4 separate regions of the Homo sapiens genome follow, and all the other regions are linked to region 1. Evidence: fine-mapped expression QTL. A gene starts in region 1. Each other region holds a variant in brackets. All regions are shown on one strand. Distances are between the middles of the regions. Region 1 holds the start of AVPR1A (arginine vasopressin receptor 1A). Region 2 has its middle 70 kb from the start of AVPR1A. Region 3 has its middle 94 kb from the start of LINC03056. Region 4 has its middle 38 kb from the start of LINC03056.

Region 1 (2,690 bases):
AGGGCTGGATGAAGGTGGCCCAGCAGTCGCGGGCCTTGGTGACATTGTTCACCTCGATCATGGAGAAGACGAAGTACTGCGGCGTGCTCAGCACGAAGCTCAGCACCCAGGCGGCCGCGATCATGAGGCGCGAGCGGCGCGCGGGCTGTTGCAGAGTCTTGAGCGGGTGGCACACCGCGATGTAGCGGTCGGCTGTCATGACTACCAGCATGTAGGCCGACGCAAACATGCCGAACACCTGCAGGTGCTTCACCACGCGGCACAGCCAGTCGGGGCCGCGGAAGCGGTAGGTGATGTCCCAGCACATTTGCGGCAGCACCTGGAAGAATGCCACGGCCAGGTCGGCCAGGCTGAGGTGTCGGATGAAGAGGTGCATGCGGGACGTCTTGCGCGGCGTCCGGTGCAGAGCCAGCAGTACGCTGCTGTTGCCCAGCACGGCCACCGCGAAAGTCACCGCCAGCACGGCGATCTCCAGTTTGGCCAGCTCCTCGTTGCGCACGTCCCTCGGTGGGCCGTTGCCCTCCCCGAGGGCTTCGGCCTCCCGGCTTGTGTTGCCAGCGCCGGTGGCCAGAGGCCACCATGGGCTGGAGTTGCCCGAGGGCCCCGCGTCGGGACCGGCGGAGAGACGCATGCTGTCCATGCAGCTCCTACTCGGCCCTCTTCGGAGCTCCAGCCCTCGCGGGCCGCTCCCTCCCCGTCTCGGAGGACTTGGGCTCCTCGTCCGAAGCGCAGGGTCTTTGGCGCGCTCGCAGCTTGCCGGGCTCTGCGATCCCTCCAGTGGGCGTCTCCCGGAGCAGCGTCCCGCCTGCCCACTGAGCAGCTCTCAGCAGGGTGAGCTGGCCCCTCTCCCTGCTCTGCCTTTTTTCAACTTCGGCGAGGTCGGGAAGGTGAGCTCCGAGCTTCCGGAAGCACTGGGTTCCCAACTCAAGTATTTATGCGGTGCTTGTTTCCTTGGGACGCGCTCCCTCCCGCCCTATTGCCGGAAGACTGCTGGTTGCCTACTCCCCGCTCCCTGGAGTTTTATTTTTTCCTCTCCCTACGTCGGTGTTTGTCCTCTGCATCACTGTGGAGGGGGTGGAGCTGGGAGACTCGCAGATTCCTCCTCACAGTAGGTGGGATCGTGGCGCTTTCCCGCTTTTCCCTTCCAAAAACTTGGACAACTGGACGAGTCATGCCTTTTCTGGGCTCGTAGCCGTTTCCACAAGCTTCCCTCACTAGCCTTCCTCGCTAGCCTCCTTAACCATGCATTTGACTTCAACAGGCACGCTAAGCGCGGTACCTGGAAACCTCCAGTCCACGCACCGGCGTCCACGCATCTAGCTCCTGCACCTGAACCTGGCTCTCGACCTCACCTCCTCCAGTCCGGGTTTCTTCCTTCTCACCGAGCTCACCCGTGCAGCAGTCTGGCAAATTTTATTCCCCAGGCAAATTTTCCCGGGGCAAACATTTCTCCCCGCTCGTGACTTAAAGAGCTATCTCTTCCTAGTAACGTCTTTGATGCATGCTATTTATTACCCTATGTTTGCGACGGGAAGAACGCACTCATCACTTTGCAGCCCCAGTGGCTGCTGTGCCTGTATTCACAGCGGGGTTTGGGGGGAGTGTCTCCTGGTTTTCTCTATGGAGACTAGGGACTTAAGGAGTTTTCTCTAGATTCCTGGGGTTTTCTGCGGGAAAAGCCTGATTCCCACAGCGGGGATGGCGGAAATTTGGCCGCAGTGGTCCGTGGGGACCGTCTGGTTACTACTGAGTCGTGGGGACATCTTTTTGGGTGGACAAAGAGCAGCTGCCGGACAGCGGCCATCCAGGCAGTGCTGTCCAGGGCAAGGGACAGAAAACCCGCCCGGCTCCTGTGCTCAGGAGTAAGAAAGAGGCAATCTCAAAGAGAGGAAAGAGGCCCTGGGAAGGAGGGGAAACAACCACCTACCTAGTAATCCGTTACTCTGAACAGCTGGAGCCCCTCTGCAGGGCGGGAGGGAGGCAGAAATGCGATCTCCCTCAGCTCTGTTTTAACGTTGGTGAAGATATGCCTCGACGGACAGCAAGGGGGAGCTGTTTTCAGGCAATTTTACAAGGAAGAAAGGAAGCCGTTTCTGCAGTTATCTGCTGTGTAGATGCAGGAGCATGACTTTGTTGGTCAGAACGTTTCAGTATTGTGGCCGTGGTATAAATTTAATTGCCTCAGAAAAATATCACCCTCTGTGAAACGTAGGCAAAAAATGCAAAAGATTTTATTCATTGCAGTTCTCAGTAATAATTCCACTTTACTATCCAGTCCGTTCATGCAGAGTTACCAAGGTTGTCACGTTGAGATGCTGGACTTGAAATCTGGAGTCCTGCTTCCTGTGGCTAGATAATCCTGGGTCTGTGCGTCTTATAAATGGAAATGAAAGGACCTGCCTTTCCTGTTGTTGAGGTCATCGGGAAGATCAAGTAAGACAATGTTCTGTATGGGGGAAATGCTCTAAAAACTGAAAGCTGTGTTGTGTTGGTTCATTTTCTCCAAGATATCCAGGAGGCAGAAGATTGAAATGGTTCAGGGATGGAAGGTAATAGGTAAAAGGTTTCCAGACCACCTGTCTGGAAAAAATCCTTCAAGCAATTAGGTAATAGTCACTGACTCAGAGAATTCACTTTCTTTTAAGTCACAAATTACACTATTAGTGCTCCTGATGAGAAAGAATGTTGAC
Region 2 (2,690 bases), 70 kb after region 1:
ATCTAGAGATATCCAATATAGTGTTTTGATATATATATTTTCTTTCCAGTCCTTTTTATGAATATACATTTTATTTTTTACAAAATTGAGATCATGCTATGTGTCATTTTTTAACCTTGCGTAACATCAGAAGCATTTTTATTGTCATTAAATATTCTTTGATACCATGATTTATTCTAGCCATAGAATATTTCTTTGTATACATGACTAAAATTTTTCATATTTAATTTTCTCTATTACAAGTAGTGCTGCAATGAATAGCACCAAACACAAATCTTTGTAACTCTGATGATTTCTTTAAATGACATTCCTAAAAGCTCCTAAAGTTGAAATTATTAGATCAAAAGATATGAATATGTTATTCTTTCAAATGACAAATTAACTTAGAACTCATATATGAGAAATTGTTCCTTTGTATCACTCTGTTTCTGAAGGGTTTCTATTTTGGATAATTCACTACACAAAGAAAATGTATTGCTAAAGTATCCAAGGGAAAACAAAACAATCCTTTATGGGGCCAGGTGTGGTGGCTCACATCTGTAATCCCAGCATTTTGAGAGGCCTAGGCGGGGTGGATCACTTGAGGTCAGGAGTTCCAGGCCAGACTGGCCAACGTGGTGAAACACCGTCTCTACTAAAAATACAAAAATTAGCTGGGCATGTTGGCACATGCCTGTAGTCCCAGATACTCGAGAGGCTGAGATGGGAGAACAACTGGAACCCAGGAGGTGGAGGTTGCAGTGAGCCGAGATCATGCCATTGCCCTCCAGCCTGGGCAACAGAGGAAGACTCTGTCACAGAAAAAAAAAATCCTTTATGATCTTGGGTTCCTCTTGCAGTTACCTCCTTATATGGAAGCTGTCTCTCCTGGCTGTATTCTAAATTATGTGATGCCTACCTTAAATATGAGTCTGGCTTATTCAACTTGATAATAACATAGCAGTTTAAGTTTATTCTCCACTGCTATATTTTAAATGTCAGGTGTGAATGATATTGTAGAGTGTAGAATATTTTACAAAGGTTGGTAGGTACTTGTGCCTGGTCAGCCTGATTCCTGAATACCTAACCAATCTTACAAAGAATCAAGACGATACCCAATTAACCCCTTTAAAATTGGGCTCGTTTTCTTTCTGGGGCACCCTGATTCCGATTCCATAAAAAGAGAAGCACATGCATATACCACGTTCTACAACTGCTGCCACTAGTTTCTGGTCAGATGTTCAGATGGGCCAGGATCCACTCTTCACAGGGACTTACTAGATGACTCAACACATCCCTCCTCTTTGCTACTAGTGGCATGGCCAGCCCTGCCTGGAGGGAAGATGTCAGGGCAAATGTTTCTTTCCTTTCTCAATGGGGTTGGCAATTATAGTGTTGGCATCAGAGAACTGTGTTTTTTGTACCAATCCCAACTGTGTTGCCTCCAGG[A/G]GGCAGGGTTATATACTCTGGCTGAGAGTGTTCTCTGGTGCTGGGCCACATGGGCTCATAATCTTAATTTCACTGCATGTGAATGTTACAACTGTGAGCAAACTGCTTAACCTAACAGCCAAATCTGCCTCAATTTCCTTATTCTCACAAGAGGGATCTTGATAATGGTATGTACCTAATAAGATTGCTCTGAGGAACAAACAAGATAAAACATGTAAAGAATATAGAACAGTGCCTGTTGTGTAACAAGTATAAGTATTAAGATAAAAATCAATGTTACATTAATTTTAGAAGAAAAAGAACCCATTCCTAGTTGTACCTTCAAAAACATAAATGATCTAAAATCAAGCTTCTGTGTCTTAGTTCCGCATTCATGCATGCAGTAATTTATTCAGCAAACATTGTACTCTACTTCGCACTGGGATAAGAGAAGTTAAGACACAATAAAACAGTGAGATTATACATGTAAAGAATTTAATATGGTGCTTATGGTCAGTAAATGACATTATTATAAAGATATAAATAATGTATAAGTATGTTACAAATAAACAGTCACGATTAGAGACACTGTGAATTAAAAATTAAAAATTGTTCATCTAAGGCAAAACTGATTTCAGAATAAACTTGGACCTGGAGGTGTAGATTCAGCAGAACTAAGAAACTTTCCATCTTAGTGGGTATTGTCGAGCTCAACTATTAAGGAACAATGTACATTTTAATTAAGTTGTGGAATTTCAGACCCTGAGGAAAATCTGTATGTTTGAGAAAGAAATATGGTGTTTCATTAAAAACATATATTTATTTGTTGTTATTGGCAATGCTTGGTTTGTAAGTCATTTTTGCAAGTAAACCTTGGGGTTGAAGGGAGGAAGGGAGAGGAAGCAAGTCCTCTGAGGGGAATATTCCACAGATGATTGACGTACTTTCTAAAATGAATGTTAATGGAAAGTAAAAAGTCAGAACAGCATCACAGAAGACAGCAGGCATGGTAAAGAGTACCCAATAAATTACTATCTGGTATTCTCTAAGAGAATGGAAATTTACATGGCAGAAGAAGAAAAATTTATCTGAATTCATCCTCTGTATGAATTCAACTAAAAGCTACAAATTTTATTTTTCCTTAAGACAATAAAAGAAAAATGATTATCTAATCAAACAGGAAGCTACAGAATTGCTTTGGCATTGAAATTTAAGGATGAGTTTAGATTAGTCAAAGCAAATCAAATAGAAATTTCCAAAATGTGATATATATAGAAGGCTAA
Region 3 (2,690 bases), 130 kb after region 1:
CCACAGGTGGGAGTTTTGTTATAAACAGTACAGATGTTGACTGTAGTTATCGCTTGAGCCTGTCATCAGTATATCACAGACATATCCCTGCCACCCAGAGATAGGTGACTCTTGCCAGTGTTTGGCCATTGTGCATAGCAGCAAGAGTTTCTAAGCTGAGTTCAGTCCCTATATGGATCTTGTTATTCTACTAGATGTCCTGATGAGATCACCAGTTTGTTGTTCAAAACAACAAAAAAAGCATAATAAAATTGTCAGTTAAATGAAAAAGCAGCATAATTAACTTGTGTAGTAATTATTTTTTTTTGCTACAATAACGAAGTACTCCAGAATGTAGTGGCTTACAGCAGCAATAAACATATATTATCTCATACGGTTTCTGTGGGCCAGGAATTCAGGAAAATATTTGCTTGGTGGTTCTAGCTAGGAGTCTCTCTTAAGGGTATAGTGAGGATGTTGGGCAGGGACATAAACATCTGAAGGCTTGGCTGAGCTGGAGGATCTACTTATTTACATGGCAGGTAAACAGGTGCTGGCTTGACAGGAGACTTTTCCACTGGGTTGCTTAACTTCCCTTATGACATTATGACTGGCTTAACCCAGAGTGAATGATCCACATCAAGAAAGAAGCCCCAATGTTTTGTTATGACCTAGCCTTGAAATCCTCACATTATAATTCCCATATTATCCTACTGGTTGCAAAGGTCAGCCTCATTTGGAGACAGTGAAAGGGGCCTATACAAGGACTTCCATGCAATGAGACAAGGCTCTTCAGGAAGTGTTTTGGAATCTGGTTACTATGATAATTCTAACATAAAATGCTATTCTATAAAAAAAAGTATTTTGTGCCTTAGCTAAATTGCTATAGTGAAAAAAAGTCACATCTCACTGTGACACATTAGTGTATTTAAGATAATTATTGAGTTGGTATTTAAAAAGAAAAATAATTTTATAAGTAAACACAAATCCAGATAATGAAGTTACAGTTATAGAAGGGTATACCTTTTGGAGTTTGCTATTTATTTTAAATAATTTAAAAGTGTGTTTATTTGTTGCATGTTGACTTGCAATAGGAATCCCTTTACAAATTTGCATCAATAAGATTTAAATTTCATTTTTTCAGCAATATGATAAACTCGGTTGTGAGAGAAACCCTTTCCAGTGCAATTTATACTAAAATGATGCATAATAGAGGAAGACAATTTGCCACTCTCTTCATTGGTTCTGAGCAGAAAGCAGACAGTATCTCCTCTTCAAATCCCTAACCACCTCTCTCAACTGGCTTGGGGCCTAAAACTACACTGCTTATGTGGCTTCCCAAACTGCAGGCCATAACTTTGAGTTACAG[T/C]TGCCCTAAGTTGATAATGTTCTCAAGTGCCTGGCGGAAGCAAACATGAACTGTCACTGAGAGAATTTGCTTTAAACACAACCTTCAAATAAGTTCCACTCATGAAATTCTAAGGAACAAAGGCTCAAAATAAGAACTTACTAAACACTTGAGGAGGCCAACTTTCCTGAGCAAAGTTCAGCTGAGACAATAAACTGCAGATTAAGGACTTCCAAGAATGCAGAGTTTAGAATTATCAGATAAAGATTATAAAATATTTAATATGTTCAAATAAGTATAAGAGTAAGTGGAAAGTAATGCTAAGAAAAAGAGACTATCAAAACTGACTAGAAAGATTTTTAAAATTAAAAACAAATAGAATTTTTGAAAATAAAAAATCATAATTGAAATTAGAAATTAAGTGTATGAATTCAATAGGAGAAATGATCAGCTAAAGAGAGTACTAGTGGACTGGAAGATAGAAGTGAAGAAATCATAAATTGTAGGACAGAGAGAGAATGAGATGGAAAACAGCAGAGACTAGCAAAAAGAGCAGTCAGAGTGATAAGGTTCAACTTAAATCTTGCAAGAGTTCCAAAATAAGAAAATAAAGAAAATAGGAAAGAGGCAGTATTAAAATAGATAATGGCTAAGAAATATCCTTAGTTAATGAAAGAAATCAATTTTCAGGTTAAAGAAGTGTAATAAATCTCAAGTACAATGAATAAAAGAGAAAAAACAAAAATCCCCAATCCAAAAGTCTAAAGTCAAATAAAAAAAACAATGAAAATGGAAAAATCAAGAGAAATAGAAAATCCAAAGTGGAAAATAAAAAGATAGAGATAAATCCAAATATGTCCATTATTATAGACAGTACAAACTAGTTAAGAGGCAAAGATTGTCAAACTGAGAAAGTCCAGTTATACATTATTTAAAAGAGACACATCTAAAACATTAAGACGTGAGAAAGTTGAAAGTAAAATGATGGGCCAGGCATGGTGGTGGCTCACACCTATAATCCTAGCACTTTGGGAGGCTGAGGTGGGAGGATTGCTTGAGGTCAGGAGTTTGAGAACAGCTTGGGCAACATAACAAAACCCGATCTCTACAAGAAATTACATAAATAACATTTTTAAAAGTAAAAATAAGAAAAGGAAAAGAAAATGATGAAAAAAGATTTACCAGACAACGGTGGAAGAGAACAGGAAAAGGGGAGGGCAAAGGAAGGAAGAGAGATTGTGGGAAAAAGAAGACGGGAAAGAGAAAAAGAAGAGGATGAAAAGGAGGAGGAGAGGGAGAGAGGGAACGGATAAGGAAGTGAAAGGGAAAGATAAAGAGAAGGAGGAGGCAGGGAAGTGTGGGG
Region 4 (2,690 bases), 260 kb after region 1:
AAGAGAAGAAACTCAGCTTGGGCTCAAACAGTGCCCTTAAGGACTTAAGTTAGTGAAAGGCCAGCGTCCTGCTAAGCCTTACCCACTTATCCTCAGCTGCTGAACTCCACCTACTCTTCCTCTTTTCCAGTGAAACCTGGCTTACATTCTTCAACATTTTAGCTGAACAAATCTATTTTTATTCCTTTTTACTTGATACCCTCAATTTCCTAAACTACTATTATTCTAATCACTGTGATATTCAGCAATATTCTGGAATTATAGCAAATTTTCCACAAATACAGAATTCGATATATTTATTATGATTTATTTCTGTTTTACATGTTTTATGTCAGCCTACAGCGTGAATAGGTTCTGTAAACAGAGGACTCGGGGGCTCAGGAGGACTTACCAGTTCCACCCCAGAAGAAGCTTAAATTCAGGAAGGCTTCAATGGGCCCAACCTGGTATCTTAGTGCCAGGTTCAGGCAACTCCTTTGGGGGGTCTTGAGTTTTCTCTGAGCCCCATATTGGGGGGCCAGAAATCAACAACAGAAAAAACAAATTCTGCCAAAATATTTAGAGGTTTGTTAATAAATAGCCTTGCTTGGCTCTCCAGTGAGTCTTTTTGTTCTGTACATTTTTTATTTAGTCACCTCCAGAATAAAAACAACAAAAACCAAACTCTATTCTGAGAACACCCAGCAAGTGATGGCCTTCAGGACATGCCATAGCTAAGGCCATGTTTAGATCTAAATCAAAGAGGAGTCTAAGATCTGGTAAGAACCAACAAGTGTGCTGTCCTTTTAGTGTTAAAACTGGGAACTCACCATTCTTTGACTGGTTGTATTACAAGAAAACAAGGTGAAATTGGCTTGTATGGTTGTCAGACTCCTTGCAACACTTGGGATATGAGTTTCTAACAGGCTATTTTGGAGAACAGAACTCTGAGATGATTTTTATATCCTTCACACTTTCTGGTCTATTTTCATCTCTGTGGCTTCTCCTTAAACAATTATAAGTGCCTGTTGGGGTAGACCCAGCTAGTAAAACGAATGTAAGATTTTGAAAGTTTTCACTTGCCAGTCAATTTCTTTTCTGGGTTCAGTGTTTACTGACACAGACACTAAAGAAATTTTTTTTTAAAGAAACTAACTGGTGTCATCTTGTCTTCACATAGACTTCTACAGCTATAGCTGAGTTTCC[G/A]TGATTTTGCTTTTTATTTTTTGCTCATTCATACATGCATAGGCAGAGTTCAGCTTTTATGCTGGTAAGAGGAATTAAACTTACATGTTTACTGAGAATTAAACTTTAAGAGAATAACAAAAGCTCTTGAAAAAAATTGAATATAACAGATGAAACAGTTTCATATTTATATTTCAACATAAGACTTTTAGTTATTGTCAGAAAGTAATGGGAATCCTTCCCATTGTTCACTTATTTAGCCTTATATAATATTCATTTAACTAAGCCCAATATCCAATATCCAGAGATTTACATTTTATTTTTAAGGGAAGACAGTATCATAGTGAGATTATTATACTGCAGAATAATAGCTTTTATACACATGCACATGCACACACACACACACAAGCTTTTTATTTATGTATAAGGTGACCATCTAATTTATAATCTTAATAGGAAAGTACTATTAAATTTTCTATTACATTTTGAATCAGTAAGTTACAGTTTTCAAGTAATTTGTCCATTTCATCTAAATTATAAATATGCTGGTGAAAAGTCATTTGTAATATTTCTTTACTCATTTTTGATATCAGACCTGCAGTGAATACCATTCTTTAATTCTTGATATTGGTAATTCATGTTCTCTCTTTTTAAAATTTTTTATTTTTAATTTTTGTGGGTACATAGTAGGTATACTTTGTCAAAAATATTTAGGGGTACATGAGATGTTTTGATACAAGCATGCAATGTGTAATAATCACATCCTGGAGAATGGAGTATCCATCCCCTCAAGCAGTTATCCTTTGTGTTACAAACCATCCAATTATACTATTTTAGTTATTTTTAAATATGTAATAAAATTATTATTGATTATAGTCACACTGCTGTGCTATCAGAGAGTAGGTCTTACTCATTTTTTCTAAATATTTTTGTACCCATTAACTATACCCATGTTCCCCTCACCTTCCCCTCCACTACCCTTTTCAGGCTCTGGTAACCATCTTTCTTCTATCTTTATGACTTCAATTGTTTTGAGTTTTAGATCCCCAAAAATAAGTGAGAACACGCAATATTTGTATTTCTGTGTGTGGCTTATTTCATTTAACATAATGAGCTCCAGTTCTACTCCAAGTTGTTGCAAATGACAGGATTTCATTCTTTTCTATGACTAAATAGCACTCCAGTATGTATATGTACCACATTTTCTTTATCCATTCACCTGTTAATGAACACTTGGGTTGGTTCCAAATCTTAGCTACTGTGAACAGGGCTGCAGCAAACATAGGAGTACAGATATCCCTTAGTTACACTGATTTCCTTTCTTTTGTGTATATACCCTGCAGTGGGATGGCTGGATCATAAAGCAGCTCTATTTTTAGATTTTTGAGGAACCTCCAAAGAGTTCTCCATAGTGGTTGTACTAATTTATATTCCCATTAGCAGTGTACCAGGGTTCCCTTTTCTCCATATCCTCGCCAGCATTTGTTATTGCCTGTCTTTTGGAGATAAGCCATTTTCACTGGGAT

What was found. PIP is the estimated chance that this variant, and not a neighbour inherited with it, causes the effect.
Region 2: its variant is fine-mapped to the expression of AVPR1A in whole blood (INTERVAL, PIP above 0.99). The same link has a PIP of 0.9 or more in blood mononuclear cells.
Region 3: its variant is fine-mapped to the expression of AVPR1A in whole blood (INTERVAL, PIP above 0.99).
Region 4: its variant is fine-mapped to the expression of AVPR1A in whole blood (TOPMed, PIP above 0.99).

The regions. Positions count from the first base shown.
Region 1 is chr12:63,150,206-63,152,895 of GRCh38, forward strand. AVPR1A (arginine vasopressin receptor 1A) reads right to left here and starts at 996. Exons shown (of 2, transcript NM_000706.5): 1 at 1-996. The coding sequence starts at 631.
Region 2 is chr12:63,219,748-63,222,437 of GRCh38, forward strand. No RefSeq gene overlaps it. Among named protein-coding and RNA genes, the nearest start is that of AVPR1A, 70 kb to the left of the region's middle. The variant A/G (reference allele first, on the strand shown) is at 1,429.
Region 3 is chr12:63,277,920-63,280,609 of GRCh38, forward strand. No RefSeq gene overlaps it. Among named protein-coding and RNA genes, the nearest start is that of LINC03056, 94 kb to the right of the region's middle. The variant T/C (reference allele first, on the strand shown) is at 1,349.
Region 4 is chr12:63,410,435-63,413,124 of GRCh38, forward strand. No RefSeq gene overlaps it. Among named protein-coding and RNA genes, the nearest start is that of LINC03056, 38 kb to the left of the region's middle. The variant G/A (reference allele first, on the strand shown) is at 1,186.